2 separate regions of the Homo sapiens genome follow, and region 2 is linked to region 1. A link means that fine-mapping ties the variant in region 1 to the expression of a gene that starts in the linked region. Tissue or cell type: lung. Region 1 holds a variant in brackets; the other region holds the start of a gene. All regions are shown on one strand. Distances are between the middles of the regions. Region 1 overlaps ING1 (inhibitor of growth family member 1). Region 2 holds the start of CARS2 (cysteinyl-tRNA synthetase 2, mitochondrial).

Region 1 (16,768 bases):
CCACGCCTGGCTAATTTTGTATTTTCAGTAGAGACGCGGTTTCTCCATGTTGGTCATGGCTGGTCTCGCACTCCCGACCTCAGGTGATCCACCTGCCTCAGCCTTCCAAAGTGCTGGGATTACAGGTGTGAGCCACCGTGCCCGGCTGGAGTTTTCATTTTTTTTTTTTTTTTTTTTTCTGAGATGGAGTCTCACTCTGTCTCCAGGCTAGAGTGCAGTGGCCCAGTCTTGGCTCACTGCAACCTCTGCCTCTCGGGTTCAAGCGATTCTCTTGCCTCAGCCTCCCGAGTAGCTGGGACTACAGGTGCGTGCCACCATGCCCAGCTAATTTTTGTATTTTTAGTAGAGATGGGTTTTCACCATGTTGGCCAGTATGGTCTCGAGCTCTTGACCATGATCCGCCCACCTCGGCCTCCCACAGTGCTGGGATTACAGGCGTGAGCCACCGTGCGCTGAGTGATACGTGGTTCCCTTTAACTTCGCACATGGTAAAATCAGTTTCTTTCCATGATCTGTTTCACAGTCTCTGTGAAGCTACCTACCACAAAGAAGTAGTGAGTGATGACTTTCTAGAATCTAAGTATATGGCATGTATTTATTATAAGTAAAACATTAAGTTTGCTGATTGTTTACTTGTGATAAACAATTATTGTGAACTTTATTTGTGCTGGACATAAGTGTCTGTTTTACAGTGAAATTCCATTATAGAGGGTTACTTGGTAGAGAAATGCAAATTGTAGTTGGTCATATACTAAAATTTGAACTTTTTACATATCAATACTTACAAATAGGTGTTTATTTTCCCACAAAACTCCAGAACATTTAAGAGTCTCGGGTGTTTAAATTTGATGAGATTTACCCAAACAAATAGTGAACAAAAGGTTTATGAAAATAAGTTATGAAACTAAAATACTTAATAAACATCCAGTGACAATAAAAATAGCTTGAGTCTTTGCTTATATAAAATTTCATGCTAATTTTTCACTTCTATATTAATTGGAGGTAATAATGCAAATTAAGTTATAGAAATGAAGATTCAATGAAATGCAGTTGCTCATCCTGGATTTCTTCATATTCAGTTTTGGTGTAGACAACTGGTGAAGAGAGATGGCTCAGAGGCCAAGCCTTGCAATCTAGGAGCCCAGCCCTGTCCTTTAAGGGCTTGATCTTGAATAAATTGCTTAACAGTTGGTCTATAGTTCTACACTTTTAAAGTATGTTTCACAGAGGGTGGTTCCAATAAATAAATGCACTGGCATATTCAAATGTTGGATAATTTTTCTCTAGCTTTCTTCAAGTTTCTCATAAGGACAGGTGGGTAGCCACTTATTCTTTAAAAAAAAATAGATACAATACAGAGTCGTGTTGGACTGGCAGTCTTAAATCACTCTTGTTATTTCCAGTGGACATTAAAAAAAAATCACAGATAAGTACTTAAAACACTCAAGATTTGGGATTTAGATCATGATTAGATACAATAGAAAGATCCTGGAATCCCGACATGAGGACAAAAATGGTACTGAATTCTTTTTGAAAAATAGATTACTGAAAAGCGATCTAATATAGAACAGTTGCTTTTACTTAGATGTTCAATGCATATTTGTTGTATAATAACCAAGTTATTACAGTTCAGATAAAGGGTCCAAAGTGTTTTCGTTATGATATAATACTTTCTATTGTAAACTGGACTAAAGAAACGTTGTATGTTCAAGGAAGTGTTGAGCAGCCATGGTGTTCCTGGGACAGGCTCCCCAGGTGCTGAGAGAGGTGCTGCAGGAGTCACAGACCTGCAGGCACGCACTTGCCAGTGACTGGGACGTTGGCTGGTGGTTCTCTTTTGGTGTGATTAGAGCTATGTGAGTTGTCTCAATACTTGAGACTGTCGGTGGTTGCCAATGCTGAATAAAGCATTTATCAAAGTAAAAGCCATTTCCTCTTATTATATATTATTTTAGAAAGAGTACACATTTAGTTGTGATATCCTTTTGTAGTTCACATTTATGTAGTGTTCCAGGTAATAAGTTACCTGGAACTTACCTGAACACTTCAATATTTCATTAAAGTATTAAATCTTTTTCTTAGGCAAAATGATTAAGAGCTTCATCTGTGCACTTCTAAAGACATGATGTGCTCTCGAGGACATCTAGCTTTTTTCCTTCTATCTAATGTAATTTATGGCTCTAGAATCCTTGGCATATATGGAGAGAGGTTTTATTGATACTGTCTGCCTCCCTCTCCATTTTAGCGTGTAGAATGTGCCTCTTTCATCGCAGAGTCCAGGCAGTTCTCAGCACCTTGGGGGCTAGATTTCCGGGGTTTTTTTAATCTGGAAAAATTGCTAGTCCGTGACTGCATTTCTTGAGGCACTCGTGTTCTCTGCACAGGCTCTCATTGTGAACTCGTGGAGGGCTTAGGAAGACACCGCTAATGGGAAGGAGGTGGGAGAGCAAATGTGTGTTGTGTTACTAAGTCAAAATTGCCTCCTGAGGCTTTTTATGAGGGGCTTTGTTTCAGAGTATTTATTTTAACTATTCCGTCTTTGTTTTTTAAGCAGCTCATCAGTGAGAATCCAACTATTACATTTTTTTCTAACAAACCAAACATTAGTGAGCTGTGCCCCCTGTGCCACCAAAAGAATGAGAGGAATTCTATAACTGGAATGAAGAAAATCATTAGGCCAGTTCTCTTTCCTTACCTCAAATACTCTGTATTACTTGACTGTTCATAAAGATGGGGTTGGTATTTTTCCAATTAAAAACCCCAATCTGAAAAGAAGCTACTACAAACTGAGTAACAGGTTAAATCTTTTTTTTTTTTTTTTTTGTTTCCCCTGAGACGGTGTCTTGCTCTGTCACCCAGGCTGGGGTGTAGTGGCCTGATCTTAACTCACTGCAACCTCTGCCTCCTGGGTTCAGCGATTCTCCTGCCTCAGCCTCCCGAGTTGCTGGGATTAGAGGCATGCACCACTACGCCCAGCTAATTTTTTTGTATTTTTGGTAGAGATAGAGTCGCACCATGTTGGCCAGACGGTCACAAACTCCCGATCTCGTGATCCGCCCGCCTCAGCCTCCTAAAGTGCTGGGATTACAGGTGTGAGCCGCCACGCCCAGCCCAGGTTAAATCTTGACTGGAGCCAGTAAACTCCATTAAAGTAAAATTTTTCTTTTTCTTTTTTCTTTTCTTTTTTTTTTTTTTTTGAGACAGAGTCTTGCTCTTGTTGCCCAGGCTGGAGTGCAATGGCACGATCTCGGCTCACTGCAACCTTCGCCTCCTGGGTTCAAGCTATTCACCTGCTGCAGCCTCCCGAGTAGCTGGGATTACAGGCGTGTGCCACCAAACCCGGCTAATTTTTGTATTTTTAGTAGAGACAGGGTTTTACCATGTTGGCCAGGCTGGTCTTGAACTCCTGACCTCTGGTGATCCACCTGCCTCAGCTTCCCAAAGTGCTGGGACTACAGGTGTGAGCCACCGTGCCTGGCTAAAGTAGAAATTTTCTTTTTTTCTTTTTTTTTTTTTGAAGTGGTTAGAAAAATTTATTTTGTGCTTAGGATTTTTTTCTTTTTCTTTTTTCCTTTTTTTTTTTTGAGACGGATTTTTGCTCTTGTTGCCCAGGCTGGAGTGTAATGGCGCAATCTTGGCTCACTGCAGCCTCCGTCTCCTGGGTTCAAGAGATTTTCCTGCCTCAGCCTCCCAAGTAGCTGGGATTACAGGCAGGCGCCACCACGCCACACCCAGCTAATTTTGTATTTTTAGTAGAGACGGGGTTTCTCCATGTTGGTGAGGCTGGTCTCGAACTCCTGACCTCAGGTGATCCACCCGCCTCAGCCTCCCAAAGTGCTGGGATTACAGGCATGAGCTACAGCACCTAGCCCCTTAGGATATTTTTCTAAGGCATCACAAGTTACACATCCAAACTCTTCAATGGTATAATATTTTATATTAAAGTAGAATTTTCTACGAAACAAGAAAATGCTTGTTTCAGCAGGCAACTTTAAATAAAGGTACTCAGTGTCGTGGTGTATGTATATCAATATAGCCACCATTTATTGCCTCCTATATGCTAGACATTGCTAGCACTGCATACTTCATATTTTATGACAACCCTGCCAAAAAATGGCTGCTTTTCCTGATGAAGGTGCTGAGACTCCAGCCAGGGACCTGACTTGCACAAGGCCAACGCCCTGCATCTGGCTCCAAAACCAGCATCCTTGACCACCGCCTGGCACCCGGAGGCCTCCTCATGGTCAGGACCTGGCGTTGCTGCTGGTCTTCCCTGAACGCCTAACATGCCAGGAGTGTGCTGTCCTCCCAGCTCTGTGGGGGTCTTACAACTGAGAAAGCCATAGAAGGTGAAAGAAACGCTCATGGTCTCACGGGAGGAGAGAGCGAAAAAGTCTTAATTGCTGGGCTTCTTTGCCTGAATGAAGGGATCTGCAGGAGCCACGGGTATTTGCACTACCAAGTTCTCATGCTTCTGATTTTCCTCCAGGTAAACCAGGATGCTTACTTCAAGTTTCTTGTTTTGCCCTACAGTGAATTTTAGGATTGTAATTTACCTGCAAGGTTTTTGTTTGTTTGTTTTGTTTTGTTTTTTCGAGATGGAGTTTCGCCCAAGCTGGAGTGCAATGGCGCAATCTCTGCTCACTGCAACCTTCGCCTCCCGGGTTCAAGCAATTCTCCTGCGTTAGCCACCCGAGTAGCTGGGATTACAGGCACGCGCCACCACACCTGGCTAATTTTGTATTTTTAGTAGAGACGGGGTTTCTCCATGTTGGTGAGGCTGGTCTTGAACTCCTGACCTCAGGTGATCCGCCCGCCTCGGCCTCCCAAAGTACTGGGATTACAGGCATGAGCCACCGTGCCCAGCCTACCTGCAAGGTTTTAAGCAATTCACTAGGAGCCATGCACGGTGCTAGAATCAGCATGAGAGTCAAAGTCAGATTTGAATCAGGACTAGTTTATCACAGGTTAACCTCAAGGAAGTCACTCTTCTGTACCCAATGTTCTCAGAAGCAAAATAAGGACAGTGATAATGCCCATCCCAGGAGTGGAGGCCCAGACTTGTTAATGTCTGAAAATACTTCAGAAATGCTAGAGCACTGTACAGATAACAATTTGAGTAATATTTTTGGTCAAATTATTCTAGTTTAACACATGTATTCTTAAAAAATGGACTTGTGATTCCTTACAGCTAAAGAGAATCAAGTCCACCCTTAGCATGTTAGCGGTCACTGCCAGGTTCCTGCTGCACGAGGAGGAAGTCCTCCATGGCTGCTTTTCTATAAACAATTCCATTTCTCGTTGTAGAACACAGAAGTAAATACATCGAATTTTTATTTTTAGTAGCAATCAGAGCCTACTAAACTTCCTTTTGACTCACCTCTTGATTGAATTCAGAGTAGGCAGAAAATCTCATTCAATCTCTTCACTGTGTGGGTGAGGAAACCGAGGCCCAAGGGTGATGAAGCCACTTCCTCAAAGGCACTCCGTGAGTTGGTGGTGGGGCTGCCGGCAGGATGAAGTGCTGTTACTCCAGGCCAGAGCCACTCCCCCGCTTCATCAGCCATGCTGTTTCATGGGTGCACCTGTTCTCATTTATGTGGACGTTAGGAACCGTGGGTCTCTCGTGTTAAGCCATAGGCCTTTAATAAAGACGTGTAGAGTAAAGCCTGAATCCAAGAATTGACATTTAAACATGAAACATTTTCTTTTCTAACTTGGAAACCAGTTCTAAAAACACACCTAAAAGGGAATTTCAGTTTGATTTGTGTGAAGGGAATATTTTTGGATAAATCTGTATGCCATTGGAAATGCAATATTTCTAAATGATTAATATTTGAGACATTAATGTAATGAGACATGTAATGTCATGTAATGTAACGAGACATGTAATGACATGTAATGTCATTACATATTTGAGACATGTAATATTTGAGACATTAATGTAATATTTTTATTACATTTAATAAATTTTATTTTTATTATAAAATTTTTATTATAAAATTTTATAAAAACAAATGTAATGATCAATCACAGAGTTTAACAATGTATCCATTTACAAAGATGCCTGGAAACAGTTTGCTGTCTCCCAAAGTGTTTATTTAACATAAGAAATTGTTAGATAAATACTTATTTTCTCTATTATTTGAGCATCTTTTGGTTGCAAGTAACAATAATTGACTATGTCTCAAGCAAAGACAGGAAAGATAAGAGAAGTGTCAGAAAATTCAGGAATCGGAAGAGCAATGAGGACACCGCAGCAAGGATTTTTCTCTGCAGCACAGATGTGTTCAGACACAGTGCGGACCAGGTGGAGACCCATCCACGAGGCTCACCGTGGCCAAGGGGTAGATGGTGTGGTGGACACTGAGCTGCTGGAGTCTGTTGTGGACAGTCAGGTGCTATGTTAGAGCAAATCTTTCCATTTTAAAAACACTTCCCCGGCCAGGTGTGGTGGCTCAAGCCTGTAATCCCAGCATTTAGGGAGGCTGAGCCGGGTGGATCACAAGGTCAGAAGGTTGAGACCATCCTGGCCGACATGGTGAAACCCCGTTTCTACTAAAAATACAAAAAATTAGCCAGGCGTGGTGGCACTTGCCTGTAGTCCCAGCTACTCGGGAGGCTGAGGCAGGAGAATCACTTGAACCCGGGAGTCAGAGGTTGCAGTGAGTCGAGATCATGCCACTGCACTCCAACCTGGGCGACAGAGCGAGTCTCCGTCTCAAAAACAAAACCAAAACCAAAAACAAACACTTGCCCTGATAGGTGCTGTGTTTGAATAGACGCTTGTGCCACCCTGACAGCTACTGGCTCTGGCTTAATTCTTTTCCCTTTAATTGGGATGTGTTCAGGGAATGGAAATTAATTTTTGTATTTTAAAGTAAGTAAAAGTTAGATGGAAGAGGGGAAATTATAGTTTTCCATGGCCAATATACACAATTTTCAAAATATTTATGACTCTTTGCACCATCAATCTGTTCCATAAACATGAGAAATTAGAAGTCAACTAACAATGAAATACTTTTATGACACAAAGATCTTCAATAATATGAGGTAGTTGAAAGTCAAGATATACAAGGATGACCTTCCTTGGCATCTTGGAAGGCTGGTAAGAACCATTTCACTTTGCAAATTTTGAAAACTACACTCGACCAAGAAGTTTAATTCTTTTTTTTTTCTTTCTTTTTTTTTTTTTTTGAGATGGAGTCTTGCTCTGTCTCCCAGGCTGGAGTGCAATGGCACGATCTCAGCTCACTGCAACCTCCGCCTCCTGGGTTCAAACGATTCTCATGTCTTAGCCTCCTGAGTAGCTGGGTTACAGGCACCCGCCACGTGTAATTACAGCCACCCGCCTGGCTAATTTTTGTATTTTTAGTAGAGACGGCGTTTTGCCATGTTGGTCAAGTTGGCCTCGAACTCCTGACCTCAGGTGATCCACCCACCTCAGCCTCCCAAAGTGCTGGGATTACAGGTGTGAGCCACTGCGCCCAGTCAAGACGTTAATTCTTTAGAAAGTGCCAAGTCGGATGTGGAGAATAAAAAGATGAGCAGCTAAGAACCCAGTCTACAGAAGTAACAGCTAGATTGCACTGCAGGGGAGGAATGGGAATAGAATGTGTGAGGACAATTAGGAAACAGCTTGTGAGGCTTACTGCATGTGGCTCCATACTTCAGGAATGATCTAGAAAGGTCAAAGGAAAGCAGCACGGGAGGACTGTGATAAGCTCTCACAGGACACTGGTGTGAGGCAGATCTTACATGAGGTTACAACTCCTGCCACTGAGGATGCAGTGCAACCTAAATTTTGAAAAATATAAGACATAAATAGACCATAGAAGAACAAATTTAATAATACCAGGAATACTGTTTCTTGAGGAACCAAAATACATGGACAGATTTACTAATTTTATTTCCTCTTATATTTCTATAATGTTATTTTGTAGAATGACTCTTATGACAGTTTTATTTATATTCTTAATATCCAGCATAGGGGAGAAGCTAATGAATGACATTTCTGGCTTTACTGTGAAATTATGTCACTGCAGTGTGTTCATGGGATAAAATATTGTTCTATTACCAAAGGCGTTGTGTTCCTCTCTTCAATGATGGGGCGACTTGAAATCTTTTTATAGGGTGCCAGGCCAACATTCCTCTAGTGCAGGGAAAGCAGAGGGTCAAACCTAGAAACAAAGATCTGGAAACTAATGGCTATCAACCAGACAGCAGGAAGTCAGTTGGTACTATCAATCTTTTTTTTCTTTTTTGGAGACAGGGTCTCGCTCTGTCGCCCAAGCTATGGAACAGTGGCAAGATTTTGGCTCACTGCAGCTTCCACTTCCCAGGCTCAGATGATCCTCTCACCTCAGCTTCCCTGGTAGCTGGGACCACAGGCGTGCGCCACCCTGCCAAGCTAATTAGTTTTTTGTATTTTCTGGAGGGACAGTGTTTTACCATGTTGCCCAGGCTGGT[C/A]TGCTCAATCTTATAGAAGCCATGAAGAGCATCGTTTCAACATGGTGGACTAGGCTAGTCCCTAAACACATACAAATTTTGTATGAAATATGGGGGAAGGGAAAGGTTTTAAATACATACCCAAGAGGAAACACAAGAGAATTCTCCGTGTGTCAACACAAAAGAAATCAGAGCAAAAATGGCAAGCAGTTGCTGAAGAGGTAGGCATGTGACCAAGGTCTGTCCATTAAGGTGCCCCACCCTGCTGGCCACAGTGACCAGGGTATGAATGGGCAGGTACCCCACATCCATCACTACCTATCTTTCCTGGGACTTTTCTTCTGGAGCCACCAGCAAAAATACCTTTTGTCTTTTCATTGTTGCTGCTAAACCATGAGGATGTATGCCTGGACACCTGGTGGTATCTTACCCAGCACACAGAGAGTCAGCCTGGAAAATGGAGAGAAATACAGTGTCCTGATGGCATTGTTGAAACCCCTGAAGCCACATGAACCCTGGAACTGTCAGTTATGGAGGTCAATAAATCCTTTTGTTCTTAAGCTAGTTCAAGCTGGGTTTGCATACTAACCAATTCACCCACCACCTCTATTTCCCAATCCTCCCAACTTCCCCAAGTCAACAGTCATCAGCGGTTGGTGGGCATCTATCTCTCCAGCTCTTTTTCTTTTTTCTTTCTTTCTTTCTTTTTTTTTTTTTTTTTTTTTTTTTTTTTGAGGCAGAGTCTCACTCTGTTGCCCAGGCTGGATCTCGGCTCGCTGCAACCTCCACCTCCCAGGTTCAAGCACTTCTACTCCCTCAGCCTCCTTAGTAGCTGGGATTATGGGTGTGCACCACCACGCCTGTCTAATTTTTGTATTTTTAGTAGAAACGGGGTTTCACCATATTGGCCAGTCTGGTCTCGAACTCCTGACCTCAGGCGATCTGCCCGCCTTGGCCTCCCAAAATGCTGGGATTGCAGGCTTGAGCCACCATGACCAGCCCACAGCTCTTTTTCTATGAGATGATACACACACTTTTAGGGTGGTTTTGAAATGTGCACAAACCTCACACTCCTCCCATCCGAGTGGAGCCTGGTTTCCCTCCCTTAACTGCAGAGGAGCCTGTATGCCTGGGTTAACGTGGAGAATGCATGGGACGTGACACCATGAGACTTCCAAGGCAGCGCAACAATCACAGTTTCTGACTGATCCCTTCCTGTCTGTGGATGCTCACACTTGGGAGTCTGCCTCCTGGAAGGGCTGCACACAGGTGTTCCAGCCATTTCTTCAGCTGAGGTCCCAACTGGTAGCTAGTGCCAACCATCAGATACATGGGCAAGATCGCTTGAAGGCGCTACCAGCCCCAGCTTCCAGCTGACACCCAGTGGAGCAGAAACAAACTGTCCCTTCCCAGCCCTGCCCAAATGGCAGATTCATGAGCAAATTAAATGTCACTGTGTTAAGCCATTACACTGTGGGGTGAATTGTTATATTGCAGTAGATAACCAGAACAATACCTATGTAAAGATACAGTTTTGCTTTACTTTTTCTTTTACAGAAATGCGATCATACCCTATGTATTGATTTGCAATAAGCAATTTTTTTCCCCTGTGTAATACTTTGCCCTGTTGGTCATTCCATATCAATACATAAAAATTAATTGACATGTTATTAACTATCACAAACAATTATGTCCTATGGATATGCTATAATTGAAACATTCCTTTAATGATCAATGATTAGAGTGTTTCAAATTTTTCTTTATGGCAAACCATTCCGAGATAAATATCTGTGTATTGTTTTCATCCTGCATATGAATATTTCTCTATGATTGATACACAGAAATAAAATTTTAGCAAAAAAGGTTTTCACACCATCTGTAGAGGCTAAGGCAACTCCATTCTTACATGCTAATCCACCATGCTGACATCTGATTAAGCCCAGTTCCAGGAAGGCCTCTAAGATTTCTATGTTATCTACTTTAAGATATATCCCACCAGCATCTGTGAGTACTTACTTCTCCTTACCTTTGCTGTCATTGGATATTAACCAAATAGAATTTTTCCTGTCTTGAGAAAAAACATTTATACATAGTTATGTAATACATTATATTTATAATTAAAATATTACATATATAGTACATACATATATAATATATCCATATTGTATATTTTATTATTATTATTATTTGAGACAGAGTCTCGCTCTGTCACCCAGGCTGGAGTGCAGTGGCACAACCTTGGCTCACTGCAACCTCCACCTCCCAGGTTCAAGCAATTCCCTTGCCTCAGCCTCCCAAGTAGCTGGGACTATGGTTGCCTGCCACCATGCCCTGCTAAATTTAGTATTTTTTTTTTTTAGTAGAAACAGGGTTTCGCCATGTTGGCCAGGCTGGTCTCAAACTCCTGACCTCAGGTGATCCACCCGCCTCAGCCTCCCAAAGTGCTGGATTGCAGGCGTGAGCCACCACACCTGGCTCATATTGTATATTTTAGGTATATAAACATATGTATTAAGAATATATAATTTGCGCTTCCCTTGTTTCTGTTGCCTTTGTACAACTTTTCAGATGGTATTGGCCATTTGTATTTATTCTAAAATGATTAATTTTTCTATTTATTACAGACAAAAATTTTCTCCAAGTCTGTTATCTTATATTTGTTTATGGCATCTTTGTCATAACAAAGCTTTAAATTTTTGAGATCATCATGTCTGAGCTCTCTTCTTTACAGAATTTATATTATATTTTGCTTAAGAAAGTTGTTCCCACCCCCAAAATTATAAAATATTCTCTTACAGTCTTTACATGTTTTTCAAATATCTCTTTTATCCATCTGGAATTTATTTTGGTTTTTAGGGTGGGGAGTCACTGAAATTCTTTGACAAAATGGAAGAATGTGAGGGATGCCATGTGGTATAGGGAAAGAGTGCTGGCCCTGAAGCCAGAGGACCTGGTTTCAGTCTCTGGCACGTACCAGCTGTGTGATCTGGGTGGAATTTCTTCATTTCCTTGACCCTTCGTTCCTCATTTATAAAATGAGTAATGATGCCTACCCCTCAGAGTGTTAATTCATACGACGTTCAAATGAGATAATGTATTAGTCCATTTTCACACTGCTATAAAGAACTGCCTGAGACTGGGTAATTCATGAAGAAAAGACATTTAGTTGACTCACAGTTCGGCATGGCCGGGGAGGCCTCAGGAAACTTACAATCATGGCGGAAGGTGAAGGGGAAGCAAGGCACGTCTTAATGGTGGAAGAAGAGAGAGAGAGCAAAGGGTAAGTGCCGCACTTTTAAACCATCAGAGCTTGTCAGAACGAACTCACTGTAACAAGAACAGCATGGGGAAAATCCACCCCCATGACTCACCCAGGTCCCTCCCTTGACATGTGGGGATTACAATTCGAGATGAGATTTGGGTGGGGACACAGAGCCAAACCATATCAGATAATATATGTAAAAGTGGCCATAACTTAATGATGTGTATTAACCCCTCTAAGTATTTCCTCAAATAGATGGTCATTGTCTCAAGCCAGTATTGAATACTCCATTACCTTCTCATTCATGAAATGTCAGCTCTATGATATATTAAATTTTCATAGACACGTGGGTGTCTCAGTTAGTTTCCACTGATTTATTCATTTATGTCAGTGAAAAATCTTCACTGTTTTCATTTCACTAGCTTTATAGTACTTTTTAATATTTAATAAGGCAAGCGCTCTGTTTGCTTCCTGTATAGTTCATTTTTGCATTGCTATAAAGAACTGCACGAGACTGGGTAATTTGTGAAAAGAGGTTTAATTGGCCTATGGTTCTGCAGGCTGTACAGGAAGCATGGCTGGGGAGGCCTCGGGAAACTTACAATCATGGTGAAAGGCAAAGGGGAAGCAGGTATGTCCTTCATGGCCGGAGAAGGAGAAAGAGAGTGAAGGGGGAGGTGCTACACACTTTTAAACAACCAGATCTTGTGAGAACTCACTATCACAAGAACAGCAAGGGGGGAAATCCACCCCCATGACATAGTCACTTCCCACCAGGCCCCTCCTCCAACAAGGGAGATTACAATTTGACCTGCGATTTGGGCAGGGACACAGATCCTAACCATATCACTTCCGTTAATGATTATAGATTAACTTGGAGAACACCTATACGTTTGGAACATGAATCTTCTCATGCAGAATATGAAGTATTTCCATTTATTCACGCTATCTATGATAGCCTTCAGTTATATTTTACAGTTTTCTTCACATTTCTTTCTGGTGTGTTGTGTTTTAGTTGCTACCACACATGGATCTTTTTTCCATGACTTTGCTCCATTGGTTCCTATTTACATGTAATAACAAGTTAATGTTTGTAGGTTGATCTCAGATCTGGCCACCTTGCTGATATTTCTCATTTGTTCTAGAAGTTTGTCAGTTGACTCTCGTAGACTTTCTAGGTAGAGGACTGTCAGTACAACATTGCCAGTGCCATGCCCGTGACTGATAGTGGGCATCTCTGCTTCCTTTCCTTTCGTCCTTTAATTCCCTCTTACTGAATGAGCTGGGACTTCAATGAAAGGTTAAGTACAGTTGGCAATAGCAGGCATCAGAGTCTTGTTCTGATTCAAATGGAAATGCTTTGAATATGTCACCATTATTCTGATGTGCCAGGTATTTCCAAAAAATATTGTTTTGTCAGGTACAGGCAAGTTTCTTTTATGATTTTTGGTATTTTTAGAGTATTGCCAGAAGTTAATGCTGAATTCTGTCAAATACTTTTTTGGGGTTGAGGCTGAGGATAGCTATGTGAGCTACGTGTGGATCTTCTCCATTTATTTATTTATTTTAGGGACACGGTCTCATTGTGTCACCCAGGCTGGAGTGCAGTGCTACGATCAAAGCTCACGGCAGCCTTGAACTCCTGGACTTAAGCAATCCTCCTGCCTCAGCCTCCTGAGCAGTTGGGATTATAGATGTGAGACACCATACTGGCCTTTTTTTTTTCAATTCAGTAAATTTTGATCCCATTCCAGCATATGTAGCTTAAAAAACAATAATAATAATAAATGAATTTCGAAAAATCTTGGCATTATTGGGATGGACTCTTCCTGGCTGTGATGGATTATTCTTTTAGTCACCACTGTATTTGATTTGATAATTTTTTGAGACAGAGTCTTGCTCTGTCACCCAGACTGGAGTGTAGTGACACAATCTTGACTCACTGCAACCTCCACCTGCCGGGTTCAAGTGATTCTCCTGCCTCAGCCTCCCGAGTAACTGGGATTATAGTCACCCGCCACCACACCCGGCTAATTTTTGTATTTTTAGTAGAGACAAGGTTTCGCCATGTTGGCCAGGCTGGTCTCGAGCTCCTGACCTCAAGTGATCCGGCTCCCTGGGCCTCCCAAAGTGCTGGTATGACAGGCCTGATTTGATAATATTCTATTAGTAAGTTTGTGTCTCTGAGATGGGGCTTTTAAAAAAGCTATTCTTGTAGTGTGTGTGTGTGTGTGTGTGTGTGTGTGTGTGTGTGTGTGTGTGTGTGGAGTATATTAACCTTATGGAATGAATTTAGGAGGTTTACCTTTTTTTTTTTTTTTTAATGCCCTGGAAGCATTTATTTATCCTTCGAGGGCAAATTCCTCTTCAAGGAATTATTTGTCCCTTGAATATTTGTTAGAAATAATAGGCAAACAATAATCTTTGCAGTAAGTCTTTGACTACCTTTTCAATTTCTTCTCTTCAGGGTCTCTATCTCTTTTTTTTGTTGTTGTTGTTGAGACAGAGTCTTGCTCTGTCGCCCAGGCTGGCGTGCAGTGGCACGATCTCGGCTCACTGCAACCTCCACCACCTGGGTTCAAACGATTCTCCTGCCTCAGCCTCCCCTGTAGGTGGGATTACAGGGGTATGCCACTGCGCCTGGCTAATGTTTGTATTTTTAGTAGAGACACAGTTTCACCATGTTGACCAGGCTGGTCTTGAACTCCTGGCCTCAGATGATCTGCCCGCCTCAGCCTCCCAAAGTGCTGGGATTACAGGCATGAGCCACTGTGCCTGGCCTCTATCTCTTCTTGACTCAGTGTTATCACTTTCTATTTTCTTTATCCCATATTATATTTTCCATGAAAATGTTCTATTTCATCTAGGTCTTAAAATGCATTGGCATACTGTTGAACATAGCACTTACTTTTTCATCACCTTGATGACTCTGGTTGTATCACCTTTCTCATTTCTAATATTATCGATTGTATCTTCTCTCTTATTTCTTAAATTGGCTTGTCACATACTAGTCCATTTAATTGATCTTTACAATAAACCAGTATTTGGTTTTATTGATTAAATCTATTCTTTTTTTTATTTTTTTTATTTGAGATGGAATCTTGCTCTGTTGCCCAGGCTGGAGTGTGATGGTGATATCTTGGCTCACTGCAGCCTCTTCCTTCCAGGCTTAAGCAATTCTCCTGCCTCAGCCTCCCAAGCAGCTGAGATTACAGGCACACACCACCACCCCTGGCTAATTTTTGTGTTTTTAGTAGAGATGGGGTTTCACCATGTTGGCCAGGCTGGTCTCGAACTCCTGACCTGAGGTAATCCACCTGCCTTGGCCTCCACAGTGCTGGGATTACAGGCATGAGCCACTATGCCCGGCCTGTTATTATTTTTCTTTTATTGATTTATTATATTATCAGCCTGATTTTTACATTTCTTTCAGTTTTTTTTCTCATAGCTTCTTGAGTTAAAAGCCTCTTGTATTTTCAGTCTTTCTGGTTTTCCAATACATGAATTTAACACCGTAAAATTTCATCCAAATACTCCTTTGTTTGCATCCTGCATATTTATAATGTCATTCATTTCTAATAGACTGTATTTTTAATTTTATATTTTCTGTGAGTAGTTACTTAGAAGCACATTTTAAATTTTTCATAGGTATAATACTCTCCTTCAGCTATCCTATTAATTTTATCACTGATTTTATGATGCTGTGGCCAGGCATTCTCTGGTCCTCATGATTTCTGCTTTTTTTTTTTTTTTTTTTTTGAGATGGAGTCTCACTCTGTCACCAGGCTGGAGTGCAGTGGCACAATCTCAGCTCACTGCAACCTCTGCCTCCCGGGTTCAAGTGATTCTTCTACCTCAGCCTCCAGTGTAGCTGGGACTACAGGCGCGTGCCACCACGCCCAGCTAATTTTTGTATTTTTAGTAGAGATGGGGTTTCACCATGTTGGCCAGGATGGTCTCGAGCTCTTGACCATGATCTGCCCACCTCAGCGTCCCACAGTGCTGGGATTACAGGCATAAGTCACCACACCTGGCCTGATTTCTGCTTTTTAGAAATCTTTTTGTCCCTCTGATATTCTTGCATGTGGTCAATCTCCTATTATTTAGACATTGTGTAGCCACAATTATTTAATCTGTCAATTTCTAAGAAAAGTGTATTCATGTAATTTATATGGTTGTGGATTTGTTAGTTTCTTTTATTTCTACAAGTTTTCACTTTTGTGTGTGTCCTATGTATATACATGTACATATATATTACTCTATGTGTATATATGTGCTATATGCATATACATATATGTATATGTACATATATACCCACATTTTATACATGTATGTACGTATATGCGTCTGTGTATATTTATGGTATATGGTGTGTATATATGTGTATATATGTATATGCTATATGTATATGGTGGATATACTTTGGCTCTGTGTCCCCACCCAAATCTCTTCTCCAATTGTAATCCCCATGTGTTTGGGAAGGGGCCTGGTGGGAGGTGATTGAATCATGGGGGCAGACTTCCCCCTTACTCTTCTCATGATAGTGAGTTCTCACAAGATCAGGTTGTTTGAAAATGTGGGGTACTTCCCCCATTGCTCACTCTCTCTCCTGCTCCACCATGTAATACATGCTTGGTTCCCCTTCTCCTTCTGCTATGATTGTAAGTTTCCTGAGGCCTCCTCAGCTGTGCTGACCTGTGAGTCAATTAAACCTCTTTTCTTCATAACTTACCCAGCCTCAGGTAGTTCTTTATAATCCTATGAAAATGGACTAATATGGATTATGGTATCTGGAGTGGGATACTGCTATAAAGAAACTTGAAAATGTGGAGGCTACTTTGGAACTGGGTAATGGGCAGTTTGAATAGTTTGGAGGGCTCAGAAGAAGACAGAAAGATGTGGGAAAGTTTGGAACTTCCCAGAGACTCGTTGAATGGTTTTGACCAAAATGCTGACAATGATATGGATAATGAAGTCCAGGTTGAGGTGGTCTCAGATGGAGACGAGGAACTTATTGGGAACTGGAGTACAGCTCACTCTTGCTATGCTTTAGTAGAG
Region 2 (16,768 bases), 27 kb before region 1:
CTCCCACCTCGGCCTCCCAAAGTGCTGGGATTACAGGCGTGAGCCACCGTGCCTGGCTTAATGATTTTTCTTAATATAAAATGTTACTGGCTGGCCGTGGTAGCTCACGCCTGTAATCCCAGCACTTGGGAGGCTGAGGCAGCTGGATCACCTGAGGTCAGGAGTTTGAGACCAGCCTGGCCAATATGGTGAAACCCCATCTCTACTAAAAATACAAAAATTAGCTGGGCGTAGTGGTGTACGCCTGTAGTCCCAGGTACTCGGGAGGCTGAGGCAGGAAAATCGCTTGAGCCTGGGAGGCGGAGGTTGCGCTGGGCTGAGATCCCACCATTGCACTCCAGCCTGGATGACAAAGTGAGACCCTGTCTCAAAACAAAAACAAAACAAAATGTTACTATGTGAATATATCCTACCTCTTTTAATTCTTACCCCAGATTTGTTTAAAACCTGTGCTTTCCATCTCTGACAACCTATAAAATGGTGCCAAAAATTAAAGTCAAGGGAGTGACTCAGGAAAGTGTATTATTATAATTTAAAATATTTTAAAAACAAGTCTTGGAGCAGATGGCACGAAAGATATTGTTATCATTTTAAAAGCTTGCATGAGAAGAAACCCAATGTCCAACGGTGGAAGAATATGGGTAAAGAAAACGCAGCACAGTCGGCTCTCTGTATCCTAGGGTTCTGCATCTGTGGGTTCAATCGATCTCATATAGAAAATATTAAGAAATAATGCCAGGCACAGTGACTCATGCCTGTAATCCCAGCACTTTGCGAGGCCAAGGCAGGAGGGTTGCTTGAGCCCAGGAATTAGAGACCAGCCTGAGCAACTTAGAAGGCCCTGTCTCTTCAAAAAATACAAAAATTAACTGGGCATGGTGACACATGCCTGTGGTCCCCGCTACTCTGGAGGCTGAAGTGGGAGGATCCCTGAGCCTGGGAGGGTGAGGCTGTAGTGAGCCGTGATTATGCCACTGCACCCCAGCCTGGGTAACAGAGTGAGACCCTATCTTAAAACTAAATAAATAATAAAAAATAATACAAATTTTTAAAAAATATAGTACTACTATTTATAGAGCATTTACATTGTATTAGTTATTAAAAGTAATCTAGATATGATTTAAAGTATATGGGAAGATGTGCATAGATTAAGTGCAAATATATTTTATATCAGGGACTCGAGCATCCAAGGATTTTGGTATGTGGGGAGGGGGTCCTGGAACCAAAACAAAAGCATATATATTCAGAAGATAGACAGCAAGGAGAGTGTACATGCAATGTGACATTATTCAGCCATAAAAAGGAAGGAACTTCCGGCACAGGCTGCAGGTGGATGAACCTTGAGGAATTATGCACCATTTAATGCTGTAAATGTACTTAATGCCACTGAATTGCACATTTAAAAATGTTTAAAATCGTAAATTTTATATTATAAAAAAGGTAAAGAAGAAAAATAAAAGTTTTAATTTTACCTTCAAAAAAGTTTACATTGGATAAAAAGAATTACCTTTTTTTTTTTTTAAATTATACTTTAAGTTCTGGGACACATGTACAGAAAGTGCAGGTTTGTTACACAGGTATACACGTGCCATGGTGGTTTGCTGCACCCATCAACCCGTCATCTACATTAGGTATTTCTCCTAATACTATCCCTCCCCTAGCCCCCCAACCCCTGACAGGCGCCGGGTGTGTGATGTTCCCCTCCCTGTGTCCATGTGCTCTCATTGTTCAACTCCCACTTATGAGTGAGAACCATGCGGTGTTCGGTTTTCTGTTCCTGTGTTAGTTTGCTGAAAATGATGGTTTCCAGCTTCACCCGTGTCCCTGCAGAAGACATGAACCCATCCTTTTCTATGGCTGCACAGTATTCCATGTGCCACATTTTCTTCATCCAGTCTATCACTGATGGGCATCTGGGTTGGTTCCAAGTCTTTGCTATTGTGGACAGTGCTGCAATAAACATACGTGTGTATGTGTCTTTATAGTAGAATGATTTATAATCCTTTGGGTATATACCCAGTAATGGGATTGCTGGGTTAAATGGTATTTCTGGTTCTAGATCCTTGAGGAATCGCAACACTGTCTTCCACAATGGTTGAACTAATTTACACTCCCACCAACAGTGTAAAAGCGTTCCTATTTCTCCACATCCTCGCCAGCATCTGTTGTTTCCTGACTTTTTAATGATCGCCATTCTAACTGGCATGAGATGTTATCTCACTGTGGTTTTGATTTGCATTTCTTAAAGAATTACCTTTTCACTAAATACTAAAAAACAGATGTTTTCATAACTATGGGTTTCAGATACATGTTTTATTACATTGAAGTCAGACATTATTTTGAGGAAAGAAACTATTCAATACCATCTTAGGATCTTGCTGTGTACCAAGTATGGAAATTCTCTGGTTCAAAAATTAACTACTCTCTACAGTTAGAATGTTTAACCAATTCTACCAAGTTTTTCATATTCTAATCATAACATTTTTAAAAAAGTTAACAACCAATCCCTCCTTGTGGCATCTGTGAAATTAACTCTTGCTTCTTCCTCCCTTTACCACGCTGGCCACCTCCTCCTTCCTGCAGTTCTCTGCTCCCTGGATTCGGGGCTCTTGTCCCGCTTCTCTGATGGCAACGTTCCTGCCCCACCTTCCCCATCGCCCCCATGACACCCTCCAAGTACACTGTGTCCTCACCTCTCCTCCCATCCCCTGCGGGGCCCTTTCTCTGTCCCATGGGGCTCCCTCCAGAACTCAGCCAGTGTCTCAGCCTCTACCAGCTCCCTGCCACCAGGACATGGGGACTGACACAATTCTTTCTGATCTTGAAGATTCATGAGAGGCACGAAGCTACCAAGTGCTTTCATTTCAGGCTCTGGCTGCCCCGACGGCAGGTGAAAGCCCCGAACCACTGACCTTCCTTCTTTACCAGTGGGGCATTTCCAAACACCACCTCTGCTGAGGGTTACCTGGTGACTAGACATTCACGCACAGCCTTAGACATCACGCACCTGCCTTCTAAATCCTGCCTCTTATAGGCTGGGGGTAAGGATGTGAAGAAATACATTTAAAGTGGGAGCCGATTTCCAGCACTGCCAGTCTCTCAATGATCTGACTCTCAGTTGCAAGATATCAAATAAACTGTTCCCCCTTTGACCTAGCAATTCCGCTTTGGAAATTAATTAACTTTTTATTTAGAGACAGAGTCTCACCCTGTGGCCCAGGCTGGAGTGCAGTGGCACGATCTCAGCTCACTGCAACCTCCACCTCCCGGGTTCAAGTACTTCTCGTGTCTCAGCCTCTCGAGTAGCTGGGATTACAGGTGCACACCTCCACACCCAGCTAATTTTTTGTGTTTTAGTAGAGACAGCGTTTTGCCATGTTGGCCAGACTGGTCTCTAACTCCTGGGCTTAAGTGATCCAGCCTTCCAAAGTATAGGATTACAGGCGTGAGCCACTGCACCCAGCCACAGGAAATATATTTATAAGTAAACAAAACAAAAGCATATATGTTCATAGCAGCACTCTTTTTAACAGCCAGAAGCAATACAAACAGCAATTGGGAAAAGGCTAGAACTGCTAAACAGCCCCATGCGGTGGGAGACTACCCAGTTATGAGAAAGACAAATCAATAGAAAATAGGAAGACAGAGACCTCAGTGAAAATGTTCCTCAAGGACCTCACACCATTCCTTTGACTCATGCCTAAGAGACAAGAGAAGAGCTCTGTTCACTCAACAAATGACAAAGTTCAGCCTCTTTTCAGATAAACGCCCCAGCCCAAAGGCGGCCTCTGACTTCCAATCCAAATCTTTAGTCACTAGTTCCACCCCATTTCACAAAAGGAAGATGCATGGGTGTGACGGGAGGTTAAAGAGGAAGGGAAGCCACAATGACAGACAAATGCTATAATTCAAATCTCACTGACTTAAAAAGTATGTATATGTATATTTTTTTTTCAAAAAAAGAAATCCAGGCCAGGCGTGGTGGCTCACACCTGTAATCCTAGCACTTTGGGAGGCCGAGGAGGGCGGATCACCTGAGATCAGGAGTTCGAGACCAGCCTGGCCAACGTGGTGAAACCCCGTCTCTACTAAAAATACAAAAATTAGCCAGGCATGGTGGTGGGTGTCTGTAATCCCAGCTACTCGGGAGGCTGAGGCAGGAGAATCGCCTGACCCCGGGATGTGGAGGTTGCAGTGAGCGGAGATAGCACCATTGCACTCCAGCCTGTGCAACAAGAGTGAAATTCTGTCTCAAAAAAAAAAAAATCCAGCAAGTTTTTTTTAAAAAGCACCAGAAACACTGCTATGGTTTGAATGTTTGTCCCCTCCAAAACTCATGTTGAAATTTATTTGCCCTTGTAACAGTATTAAGAGGTGAGAACTTGAAGAAGTGATTAGGCCGTGAGGGCCCCACCCTCTTGGATGGGCTTCATGCCTTCTTAAAAGGGCTTTCCGGCCAGGTGCAGTGGCTCACACCTGTAATCCTAGCACTTTGGGAGGCCGAGGCAGGAGGATTGCTTGAGCTCAGGAGTTTGAGACCAGCCTGGGCAACATAGTGAAACCGCATCTCTACTAAAAATAGAAAAAAGAAAAAAATTAGTCATGTGTGGTGGTGCACAGCTGAGTCCCAGCTACCAGGAGGGCTGAGGTGGGAGAACAGCTTGAGCCCAGGAGATCAAGGCTGCACTGAACTATGACCACACCACTGCACTCCAGCCTAGGCGACACAGTGTGACCCTGTCTCCAAAAAAAAAGAAAAAAAAACCCAAGGAGGGGTGGGGGCAGGGGGCTTTTGGCAGGGCTTCTTTCTCTCCCCTTGACCTCTTGCCCTCCACCATGGGATGATGCAGTAAGAGGGCCCTTGCCAGATGCTGGCACCTTGATCTTGGTTTCCAGCCTCCAGCATAGTGAGCAAATACGTTTCTATTCATTATAAATTACCCAACCTGTGGTGTTCTGTTACAGCAGCACAAAACAGACTAAGACAAACACCGTCTAATGCTCTTGGAGGGTCAAACTGCCAAACAGCAGCCCACCACTGGACAATCCACAGGTGGTCTCCACAAAAAGCAGAGAGAACAGGGGTGGAACAGGTGCTGACCATGGACGCCGGTGACAGGTGCATGGGTTCATATGCTCTTCTCTCTACTTCATGTATGTTAGAACATTTCCACTGTAACACATGCTGGTAAAAGCAGTGGTAACTGGCAAAGTATCACAAGACTACATCTCGTCTACATCAAAATTAGGTCAGCTTTACTTAAATTCCTTCATCAGATTCAGGAAAAGGAAATAGCCAGTCATCCTAACTAACACACAAATGAATAGACTGTCTTGTATGCTAAACCACAGTGAATTGTGAAAATGGGCAAAAATGTCCAGAGAGAATGGTGATTAGAGGAAGCACCCGCAATGGAGAAAGCCGACACAAGACAGCATGTGGGGCAAAGAGTGACAGCGTTTCATCAGAATGGCTTCTTTAGGAAAAGTCTTCCTCACCAGCAGTTAAAGTCAAAGGACCCACCAAAGCCCTTCCGGTAGAAGTGATGTGCGGGGCACTGGCCCCCAGCCAACAGGGAGAGCCCGAGGAGGCGCCTCCAATGTCCCACCTGCCTGTACAACCTCATCCACTGTGTCTTCCCAAAGCTTGCCAGGCACCACACTCCAGGTGTGGGCCAGACTCCAGTGGGGCCCTCAGCCTGCACGGGAAAGAGACTTCTGCTACCCGCCACAAGTGCGCAGGCCATTCCCACCTGGCAGGGGTACTTGCCCAGAGATAGCTGAAGTCAGAGCTGTGGGAGTGGCCCTGCCCCTGAAGGTCTGTGCAACCTCAAGATGTGATCACCTTAACCTCTTGACTCTTCTGCAAGATGGGGACACATCCAATGAACCTGAGTGGAGGGCCACCTTACAAAATCAAAGTCCTACAATCCTTGACAGTGTCAAGGACATGAGACAGGGAACTACTGAAGACTGAAGGAGACCGAGGAGACAACAGGACTCTGGAAGGGGTTCTAGAACAGAAAAGAAAGAGGCGCTCGGGGACAGGGACAACACCTGGGGTTGACGTCCATGTCACCCACACCAGCGCACTGCATCAATGTCCGGTTCCTGACTGGGAGGGCTGTGCGGGCCTCGAGAGCCAGTGACCTTGCTCTGAAGGCACGCGTGGCGTGTGCAGAGAGGGGAGGCGGCCTGGTGGGAAAAGTCTAGAACAGAGAGAAGATGATGGCCCAACGCAGCCAACAATGGCCACGAGGAAACCCAGGGTGGCTGCAGGAGATCTTTGTACTATTCTTGTCATTTTTCTGTAGATCTCAAATCGCTTCAAATAATTTTTTAATATGGAATAAAATGTGTTAAAAAAAGCACAATAAGGTCTGCTCTGCGCAGCACACAGGGTTGTTCTGAGACTGAAATACTAATAGATACAAAAAGTACTTTTTAAACTATCAAGACACAGACATGAAAGGCATCATTAGCACAAATATGAATACGTCCAATCAGTGGGTCTGGTTCCCTCAGTAAAGAGAAAGTCAAGTCATTTCCCTTGGAGGCCGAGGGGCCAGGGGAGGGAGTAAGATTGGAGCCAGGAGACGACCACAGAAGGAGGTAACGACACGAGGCCACAGAAAAGCCTTCAGCGATCACAATACGATAGATGTTAACTTCCTTTACTAGGGCACCAAAGAAACCCTGCTAACCCAGCACTGTTTCATGTCTCAGATTACACCCACTGGCCACACATGGACAATAAGATGTGAGAACTACTTGTAAAATGCAAACAAGAACCACTTTCTTTTTTCTTTTTTTTTTTGAGACAGAGTCTCCATGACCCAGGTTGGAGTGCAGTGGCACAATCTCCGCTCATTGCAACCTTCGCCCCCCCAGGGTCAAGCGATTCTCCTGCCTGAGCCTCCTGAGGAGCTGGGATTACAGGAGCCCGCCACCACACCTGACTAATTTTTGTATTTTTAGTACAGACAAGGTTTCACCATGTTTGTCAGGCTGGCCTCAAACTCCTGACCTCAAGTGATCCACCTGTCTTGGCCTCCCAAAGTGCTGGGATTACAGGCGTAAGCTACCACGCCCGGCCAAGAACCACTTTCAGGAAGGGCTCAGAACACTAATCAATGGCATTATCAATAGATGTAACTCTTCTCCACTTACCTCATTGGCTCTTTTGATGATTTTATCATCTACATCTGTAATACCCATCACCATGACTATGCTGCATCCAAAAACCTTGGTTAGGATCCTTCGAATGATATCAAATCTAACATATGAGCTGAAAGAAAAAAAGTGTCAGGATGTCTTTATTACACAAAGTCATCAGTTATCTTTGTAAAAAATCCATTACATTTTAACATGCTGCTCCATAACTTCTACTGTGTAGCACAATGGACAGGTCAGCGGAGCAGGTACAAGGAAACTCCCTCTCACTGATGGCACCAGGGCCTGCGCCACAAGGGTTCTCAGGAGAAACTGACAAAGGTATTGCATCAATTTCAGGACACAATATTAGCATTTTTAATTTTGGAGTTGTTGCTTAAGTGAGTTGAAGTCTATTTAATTGTATAAAAATTCACTCATAATACAATCTCTCAGTTAAGATCGTGTTTTCACCATTCTTGTTCATGTTCTAGAGTAATTCTAATTTTTCACTATGACAAAACAGAAGCAAATACCAAATCAAAACAAGTACGATCCCATTAAAGCCATATAAGATTACTCCTAAGAATGCACACACTAGTGTAGAATATTTAAAAATGCCAGCTTATTTATATACTACACTGGGGTAATTCAGACTTGTAAAACTAAAAGGGTTTAAAATCTACTTAGCATCTCAAGAATCTGTTTTCCCATAAAAGTTACCTTAAAACTCAAGGTTATCTAATGTCACACTCACCTCTGCTATCCATGTGGCCTAAATTTCAGTTCGTAAAATTGTTTTCTCTTAGGGTGGTGTGGGGGAATCCTAGCCATGTTATTGTATCACTTTAACCTCCCACACACCCCCTCCCTCTCCAAACACAGCTGAGACCAAATCTTGATTCCAGGGACAAAACTATCTCCAAAACTCAACAAGATAATTAACCTCTTACAGCTCAGTCGGCTTGCTTATAAATTTGGCAAAATCCCACCACCTAACAGGACTGCTGTCCAGCCTTACCGCCTGTGCAGCATGAATTCTAAAAACACAAGCTATTATTACCATTCTCATCACCATGCTCCTTCATTCACCTCAAGTTGGGAAAGAGTCTAAAAGATGTGAGATTTACAAGAAAAAAATTACAGGAACCTAAAGCAAATGAAAACAAGAGTCAAGTCCCTTGCTTGGCCCAGAGGAGCCCAGGCTGAGTCCCGGAACTGCCCTTGGAGACAGCAGAGGCTCCACAGCTTGGCAGAGCTGGCGGAATGCAGGGTCATGAGCAATTTGAGACCCTGAGACGCTGCAGGCAGGCTGTGACCACAGGGGCCACTCTATACACAAACACGCACACACACGCCTTGCAAGTGCCGGGCAGCCAAGTCTGAAGAACATGGCATCAGGAGACCTCAGCTTGCTTCTGTGACTCCACCATGAACCATGCTACCGTCAGCCCGGCTCTTTCTGCCCCATTTTCTCCATCCACTGGGTGAGTGTGCTCATCTGGGTGATCGCTGAAATGATTCATTTGCTAAGAGTCTTCCCTCAAAACGCTCCAGTGTGACTCCGTCTACCATGGCATGAAATCCAAACTCTCTGGGCCAGACCACGCAGCACCCTCCCCAGTCTGGCTGCAACTGACGCCCCATCCCTTCCCCTGCTCCTCCCCCCTAGCACCAAACTGATCTATTTGTTTTCCCCAAACAGGGTTTCCATCCCTCTGACCTCTTCTGGAAATGGTGGAGGCTATTTTTCAGGGTGTCTCTTTCCAGTGAACTGAGTGCTACCCATTGCTCAAATTCTACCTTTCTGCAGCAGGCACTGTGTGCATCCCTGTCCTGCTGGAGCTGAAATAATTACATCATGCTAACGACATCAGATGGTTGCATAAATAACCACTGAAGGAGTACAATGCTAGGAGAGCTGAGATGGGGAGAGGGAGGTGGGGCAGGCCAGCCCAGCAAAGGCCTGGAGGGGTTGGCCAGGCTGACAGGAAGGTGGTCAACAGGAGAGTCCCAAGCTCCCACCAGCCCCTGGGAAGGCCCTGTGTGGACACAGCTTATAACATGCATTCAGCTGCGCACTTAAGATGTGTATTCTTTTCTGTAGTCATAAAGGTAAATATTATACAAATTTAAACTGCAAGACTTGACTCTCCTAGTTGGAAATGAGAAGAGATTCTCTCCCCAACAACTTTTAGGATTTCTTCCTCAGTCCTCTTCAAATGCATGTCAATCTTTTAAATGGCTAAATAAACCTCTTGGCAGTTTTACAACTCAAGAAAATTTCAAAACCTGGGACCCACCTCTGAAATGTAATCAAGGAAAATAACGCCCCGTTTCCCAGTGTCCTGGGAGGAGATGGGCCTACCTTGTCATCTGACTCCACACTGTAACTCACCTGAAGCAATGGGTTATGCTATGGTCTGAATGTTTGTCTTCCCTCCAAATTCATGGTTGAAACCCTAACTCCCAAGGTGACGGTTTTAGGAGGTGGAGCCTCTGGGAGTGACAAAGTCATGGAGGCAGAGAGCTCATGACTGGGGTTAATGCCCTCATAGAAGAGACCTCAGAGAATTCCCTCTACCTTCTACCATGTGAGGACACAGCAGGCAGACCCTCAACAGACACCAAATTTGCTGGTGCCTTCATCTTGGACTTCCTAGCCCCAGAAAGAAAGAAATTTCTGTTGTTTATAAGTCATCCATTTTAGGATATTTTGTTACAGCAGACTCATAGACTGAGACAGGCTGTATCCCCAAAGCTCCATAGAAGGATGAGATTTCTTTCTGTCTTTGCAGTTATTTTAGCTCATCCCCTTCTGGTTTAAGGCTTATTCAGTAACAGAACTGTTTTCTTTCTCTTCTACCTTTGTGGAAAGGTTTTCCAGGGTGGGGGTTTTGTTTTTAATATTTCCCCAACATATTTTATAATTCAAGAAAGATGTCGAAATATGCTTTTGATAATTAAAAGTATGTTAGCCCAAAGTAAAGGGGAAAAATGTATATTTAAAGTATACAGAGTATGCCGGGCATGGTGGTTCATGCCTGTAATCCCAACACTTTGGGAGGCCAAGGCAGGTGGATCATTTGAGGTCAGGAGTTCGAGACCAGCCTGGCTGACATGGTGAAACTCCGTCTCTACTAAAAATACAAAAATTAGCCGGGCGTGGTGGTACATGCCTGTAATCCCAGCTACTCCGGAGGCTGAGGCAGGAGAATTGCTGCCAGGAGGCGGCAACTGGACCTGGGAGGCAGAGGTTGCAGTGAGCCGAGATTGCACCACTGCACTCCAGCCTGGGCGACAGAGCGACTCCGTCTCAAGAAAAAAAAAAAGTATACAGAGTAAATGTAACTTTTTACTTTTAGTCTAGGACTGAACAATACTAAGTTTTAAAAAATCTATAATATGTCATTTTTGTACATTATATTTTGGAAATGTACAAAATATTAGGAAAAGTGGTAATTTTGGCAAATGTAGGAGGCAGTACATCTTACAGTTAAAGAGGTCAAGAGAGCAACCACTTCGCAGTCAGAGAAACCAAGCCTCACCCCAGTTCCAATACCTCTTCAATGTGTCATCTTAGGAAAGTTACTCAATCACTATTGAGCCCCGTGACATCTCACATGTGAGGTACAGTGTTAAGCAGCATTTTATGGGCATTATTTACTAAAATTGTTATAAGATCCAAGTTATCATTCCCATCTCAAAGATGAAGAAACCAGGACTCAAAGCAATAAAGTGACCTGCTCAGTGCTGTGAAGCTAAGAAGTGGTGGGGCCCAGGAATGACTGATCAGCAGGACCCCGGGACCCCGCAAAGGCCTCTTGATGTCACTAAACCCAGCAAAAAACATCTAGTTCCAAAACGGGTCATTTTTCAGTGCTCCATTGTCTCCCTGAGTTTCCTCACCTGTAAAACGGGTGTAAGTGCTCAGAATCCCTATAAGAACCAAATGAGGTTGTAACATTTCCCACAATGCCTGGAATGTAGGAATTATTCTGCATCCCTAAGTTGCCACTTAAGAGATAAAAGAAATCAGCAAAAGGCTTTCAAAAATAAATGGTCCTTTGAAGTATGAAAATTCAAATCCAGGAAACTCACCAAGCATGGCCAAGGTGCGCATGATCATATACAGTTGGTCCACAGCTATACCTGGAAACAAAGTTAAAATCCATCGTGTGGAACATATTTGCAAGAAAGGACATTCGATTCTGAGTTATAATGATCATATAATTTTTAAAGTAATCACTTCTGGGGGATGAATAGCCGGGGTTTTCATACTTGCTCAATTCACACCCAAACCTGCAAAAGCACCGCGCACCCCCAGCTTCTAGAACGGCGCCCTCCATGCAGCTTCCTAAACGCCCTCCCCGAGCCCAGATCCCGTTCAGCCGTGGGAAGTCTCCGCCACGATCGGCCCCCGCCCGTGCCCCAGTCCCGCGCGGCCCACCAGGAGGCGGCTTCGGCGTGCGCCACGATTAGGGGTTCCTTCCTCCCGGTGAGGCTGTTGTACACCTGCACACCCGTCTCCCGGCCCGTGGGCTGCAGCCAGGCCCGCCCGCGCCCCCCGCTCGCCGCCCGGCCCGCAGGCCAGTGCCACCCAGCCCGCCCAAGGCCCAGCGCGGCCTGGAGCAGCGGGGGGCCCAGGCCTGGGCCGCGCGTAGTCCTCAACATGTCAGCGGCCAGCGCCTACGACTGGGCGGAGACGGGAGCCACGCCGGGTACGCTGCCGGTCGCTCAAGAGCAGCACGGCCCCGCCCCGCCCCGCCCACGCCCTTGGGGCCACGCCCACTCCCGGAAGCAGTCCTCAGGTAGCGCCTCCCTTTGGCCTGGCTCGAGTCGCCCGCGGCAAGGGTGGAGAACCAGGGCCCGAAGAGGTTGGGGCGGGGAAGGCCCGGGGTGGAGGGAGGAGGGCGGTGCCGCGCCGGGAGGCCGTGGGAAGAGGCGGTACCGTGCCGATCTCCTCTCCTTATTAGCCCAGGTCCTGCGAGGCGTCCGTGTGCGCGCGGTACCAGCCTGGAGCTGTGTCCGCCGCGCGGGAGGAGCGTTTACAGTGCAAGCTTCTGTTGCCGGGCCCTGGCCTGTTAGCGAAGCACGTGTGCATCCCAGCACAGCCCACGTCAGCACGCTAATACACAGTGTCCACCCCAGAACACACGTCAGCACCCCAATACAGTGTGCACCCCAATACAGTGTGCACCCCAAACACACATCTGCGCCCCAATACAGTGTGCACTGCAGCACACCGTTAGCATCCCAACACAGTGCACCCCGATACACAATGTGCAACCCAACACACAGTCTGCACCCCAAGAAGTGTGCACCCCAATACACAGTATGCACCCCAGCACACACATCAGCATCCCAATACAGTGTGCACCCCAATACAGTGTGCACCCCAGCACACACATCTGCACCCCAATAGTGTGCACTGCAGCACACCATCAGCATCCCAACACAGTGCACCCCGATACACAGTGTGCAACCCAGCATACAGTCTGCACCCCAATACACAGTATGCACCCTAGCACACACCACATCAGCATCCCAATACAGTGTGCACTCCAATACAGTGTGCACCCCAGCACACACCATGTCTGCACCCCAGTACAGTGTACACCCCAATACAGTGTGCACCCCTAATACACTGTGCACTCTAACACACACCATGTCTGCACCCCAGTACAGTGTGCACCCCAACACAGCACATGTGCATCCCAGCAAACACTGTCTGCATTCCAATGCAATGTGCACCTCAATAGAGTGTGCGCCCCCACACATCTACACCCCAATACAGTGTGCACCCCAATACACAGTGTGCAACCCAACACACACCATGTCTGCACTCCAATACACAGCATGCCTCCCCCACCATGATCCCGTATCTTGAGAACAAAAACATTCTGAAAGTTACTCACAATAGCTTGACAAACGTGCCTCTATTGGGCCAGGCGCAGTGGCTCACACCTGTAATCCCAGCACTTTGGGAGGCTGAGGCGGATGGATCACCTGAGGTCAGGAGTTCGAGACCAGCCTGACCAATATGGTGAAACCCCGTCTCTACTAAAAATACACAAATTAGCCGGGCGTGGTGGCGTGCATCTGTAGTCCCAGCTACTGGGGAGGCTGAGACAAGAGAATCGCTTGAACCCAGGAGGCAGAGCTCACAGTGAGCTGAGGTCACACCACTGCACTGCAGCCTGGGCAACAGAGGGAGACTCCGCCTGAAAAAAAAAAAAAGTGCCTCTATTGGTGTCTTGCAATACGATGTCTCAAAAAAAAGAAAAAGTCCCCTTTGCTTTTCCAGTTCTCAAAACAGGAGACGTTCCTCTGGTTTTTTGTTGTTGTTTTTAGTTTGCTTTGGTGTTTTATTAAAAAGCAAAGGTTTAAGTAGAGACAAACAAGTGTGTACCTAGAGTAGTTTCTCAATATCCTGGAGTCCAACTCTGCAATTCTGTTTCAAGCTAACTGTAGTCTAATGTAATCTATTGTCTAATTTAATAAGGTTAAAATGTTAGAATTAGGAGACCCTATAGCCTACATCAATGCTAACCACTCATGTTACCTAACTACTCTAAATTCTCCTGAATATTATCACTTCTTGCCTGCCTTATGTTATTTTGTAACTTTCCAGTGCTGTGTGTATATTTATCTCCCTGAGTATCTTAAATTGTACATTATTTTGAACTTCTCACTGTGCCCTGCACTAAATTCAGAAAAGGACTTGGGTTTTGTTTGTTTTGTTTTGCTGTGGCTGGAAAAAAAAAATTTAGAAGAAATAAAAGGGCTTGTTGAATGTTGATGAATTAATCCCTTACGAAAGGGATTAATTGTGCAGGTGGGAAGAAATCTGGGTAGTAAAATACCTGATAAAGCTGATTCAGATATTAGATGTGCCAGTAAATAAAGCAAATTAACAAAAAGCTCAGTTGCAATCTGTGAGAACACACGAATTCAAGGAAATAACTGGAGCAGAGATTCTGAAAGCAGCTTAGTAACACTGAAGATCAAATCTGCACATGAATCTGGACATGCGGTATATTTGAATTGTTCATAGAACATCACAACTTTTAAATTAACAATAGTATCTTCTGTCTTCAGAAAATTCATGTAATGTTTTTAGCCCCTCACTGGCAGTGATTCTATTATGTTTTCTTTTTTTTTTTTGAGGCAGTCTTGCTCTGTCACCCAGGCTGGAGTGCAGTGGCCTGATCTGGGTTCACTGCAGCCTCTGCCTCCTGGTTCAAGCAATCCTCCTGCTTCAGCCTCCACAGTAGCTGAGATTACAAGTGCACACCACCGTGCCCAGCTAATTTTTGCATTTTTATTTTTATTTTTATGTATTTATTTTTGAGACAGAGTCTCACTCTATCACCCAGGCTGGAGTGCAGTGGCACGATCTCGGCTCACTGCAACCTCCACCTCCCAGATTCAAGTGATTCTTCTGCCTCAGCCTCCCGAGTAGCTGGGATTACAGGTGCGTGCCACCACGCTCAGCTAATTTTTGTATTTTTAGTAGAGATGGGGTTTCATCATGTTGGCCAGGCTGGTCTGGGACTCTGGAACTCCTGACCTCAAGTGATCCAGCCACCTCAGCCTCCCAAAGCGGTGGGAATACCGGCCTAAGCCACCACACCTGGCCAATTCTCTTTTCTCTTTTTTCTTTTTTTTTTTTTTGAGATGGAGTTTCACTCTTGTTGCCCAGGCTGGAGTGCAATGGCGTGATCTCCTGGGTTCAAGCGATTCTCCTGCCTCTTTCTCACGTCTCCCGGGTTCAAGCAATTCTCCTGCTTGTCTCCTGAGTAGCTGGGATTACAGGCATGTGCCACCATGCCCAGCTAATTTTGTATTTTTAGTACAGATGGGGTTTCTCCATGTTAGTCAGGCTGGTCTTGAACTCCCGACCCCAGGTGATCCGCCCACCTCGGTCTCTGAAAGTGCTGGGATTACAGGCATGAGCCACCGTGCCCGGCAGCTAATTCTGTTTTCTTAAGGCTTTTGCGGATCATCAAAACAAGGAGAAACATAGCTCATTACCTAATGATGGTTAGAAATGTGATCTTTTTGCATATTGAATATCTGCAGGTTGAATATTAAGGTAAAGTAAAATAGACTGCTAATGCTCTTCATTACTATACCTCCCAGCCTACATCTTTCTCCTGTGCTGGGTGCTTCCTGCCCTCGAACATCAGACTCCAAGTTCTTCAGTTTTGGGACTCAGACTGGCTCTCCTTGCTCCTCAGCTTGCGGACAGTCTATTGTGGGACCTTGTGATTATGTAAGTTAGTACTTAATAAACATATATATGTATATACATTATATATATCTATATCTCCATCCTATTAGTTCTGTCCCTCTAGAGAACCCTGACTAATACACCATATATACATAAAAAGAGGATCCATTTAATTGAAGTCACCTCCCTCTCCAATCTAGGTCAGAACGAGGAAGTGTGTTAAAGTTAATGATTCCAAAATATCACTAATGCCATTTCTCAGTCCTTAATGACAACAATAACAAAATCAAGTTCTCAGTATTACATTTTCTTTCAAGGCAAAATCTTGTAAATCAGAAGTAGAGTTGATTACGGTAGCATATGGTTTAGGGGTTTTCAAGTTTAAGATGAATGAGTTTGCATTTATTTTTTAAGCACTTTGAAACTTAAACAATTCTATGCTTGGCCAGGCGCGGTGGTTCACGCCTGTAATCCCAGCACTTTGGGAGGCCAAGACAGGCGGATCACCTGAGGTCAGGAGTTCGAGACCAGCCTGGGCCAACATGACAAAACTCCGTCTCTACTAAAAATACAAAAATTAGTTGGGCATGGCGTCCGGCACCCGTAATCCCAGCTACTCAGGAGGCTGAGGCAGGAGAATCGCTTGAACCCGGGAGGCGGAGGTTGCAGTGAGCTGAGATCACGCCACTGCACTCCAGTCTGGGTGACAAGAGCAAGACTCCGTCTCAAAAAAAGAAAAAGAATTATATGTTCATCTCTTATATCTGACTCTCATAGGTTTGAGCATTTTCAGTTAGACTGGAAATATAATTTTAGAAAAAAGTTTAATTTTAAATGTTTCTTTTTAATCCATTTGAAATTTCTGTTCTACGGAAAAGTTTTAACATCCATTTTTGCAACACGCCACAGGAAACAAAACTGAAAGAGACAAGATTCTTCAACGTATCTTCAAAATTAAGCACCTTTCTTCAATGACATTTAAAATTCGTTATCAAAGGTAATTATGTTTTATTGCTTGATCTTCTAAGTTTGTTCCAAAAAAGATAAAATCTTTTTTGACTTTTTATCCCAAGGGGTGGGCTAAAAGTTTTATGGAATGTAAAGCTCCAAAAAACTTTTCACTACTGTATCCCCAGCGCACGGACCAGTAGTTGGCACATGGTAGACACTCGTCAATATTCCTTGTTGAATGCTTAAGATGCCTTTTTGGTTTATGTGTATGTGAAGAGAGTACATAACTAGAGGAACAAAATCATTACTCAGATTGTACTGTGTTGTGATTTTTTTTTTTAAAAAGAAAACCTAGGTTAAACTCCATCTTATCTTTGTAAAGGGTAAATTACTTCCAATTTTATTCTTGAGTTCAGATAAACACTATTC

Evidence for each region.
Region 2: it holds the start of CARS2, and the variant in region 1 is fine-mapped to the expression of CARS2 in lung (TOPMed, PIP 0.94).

The regions. Positions count from the first base shown.
Region 1 is chr13:110,721,415-110,738,182 of GRCh38, forward strand. It overlaps ING1 (inhibitor of growth family member 1), which reads left to right. Exons shown (of 2, transcript NM_198219.3): 2 at 1-1,925. Among named protein-coding and RNA genes, the nearest start is that of ING1, 16 kb to the left of the region's middle. RefSeq lists an enhancer at 5,214-5,353. The variant C/A (reference allele first, on the strand shown) is at 8,470.
Region 2 is chr13:110,694,268-110,711,035 of GRCh38, forward strand. CARS2 (cysteinyl-tRNA synthetase 2, mitochondrial) reads right to left here and starts at 11,849. Exons shown (of 15, transcript NM_024537.4): 1 at 11,603-11,849; 2 at 11,254-11,304; 3 at 7,171-7,288. The coding sequence starts at 11,826. RefSeq lists enhancers at 4,436-4,595, 12,267-12,646, 12,657-12,776 and a silencer at 11,657-12,216.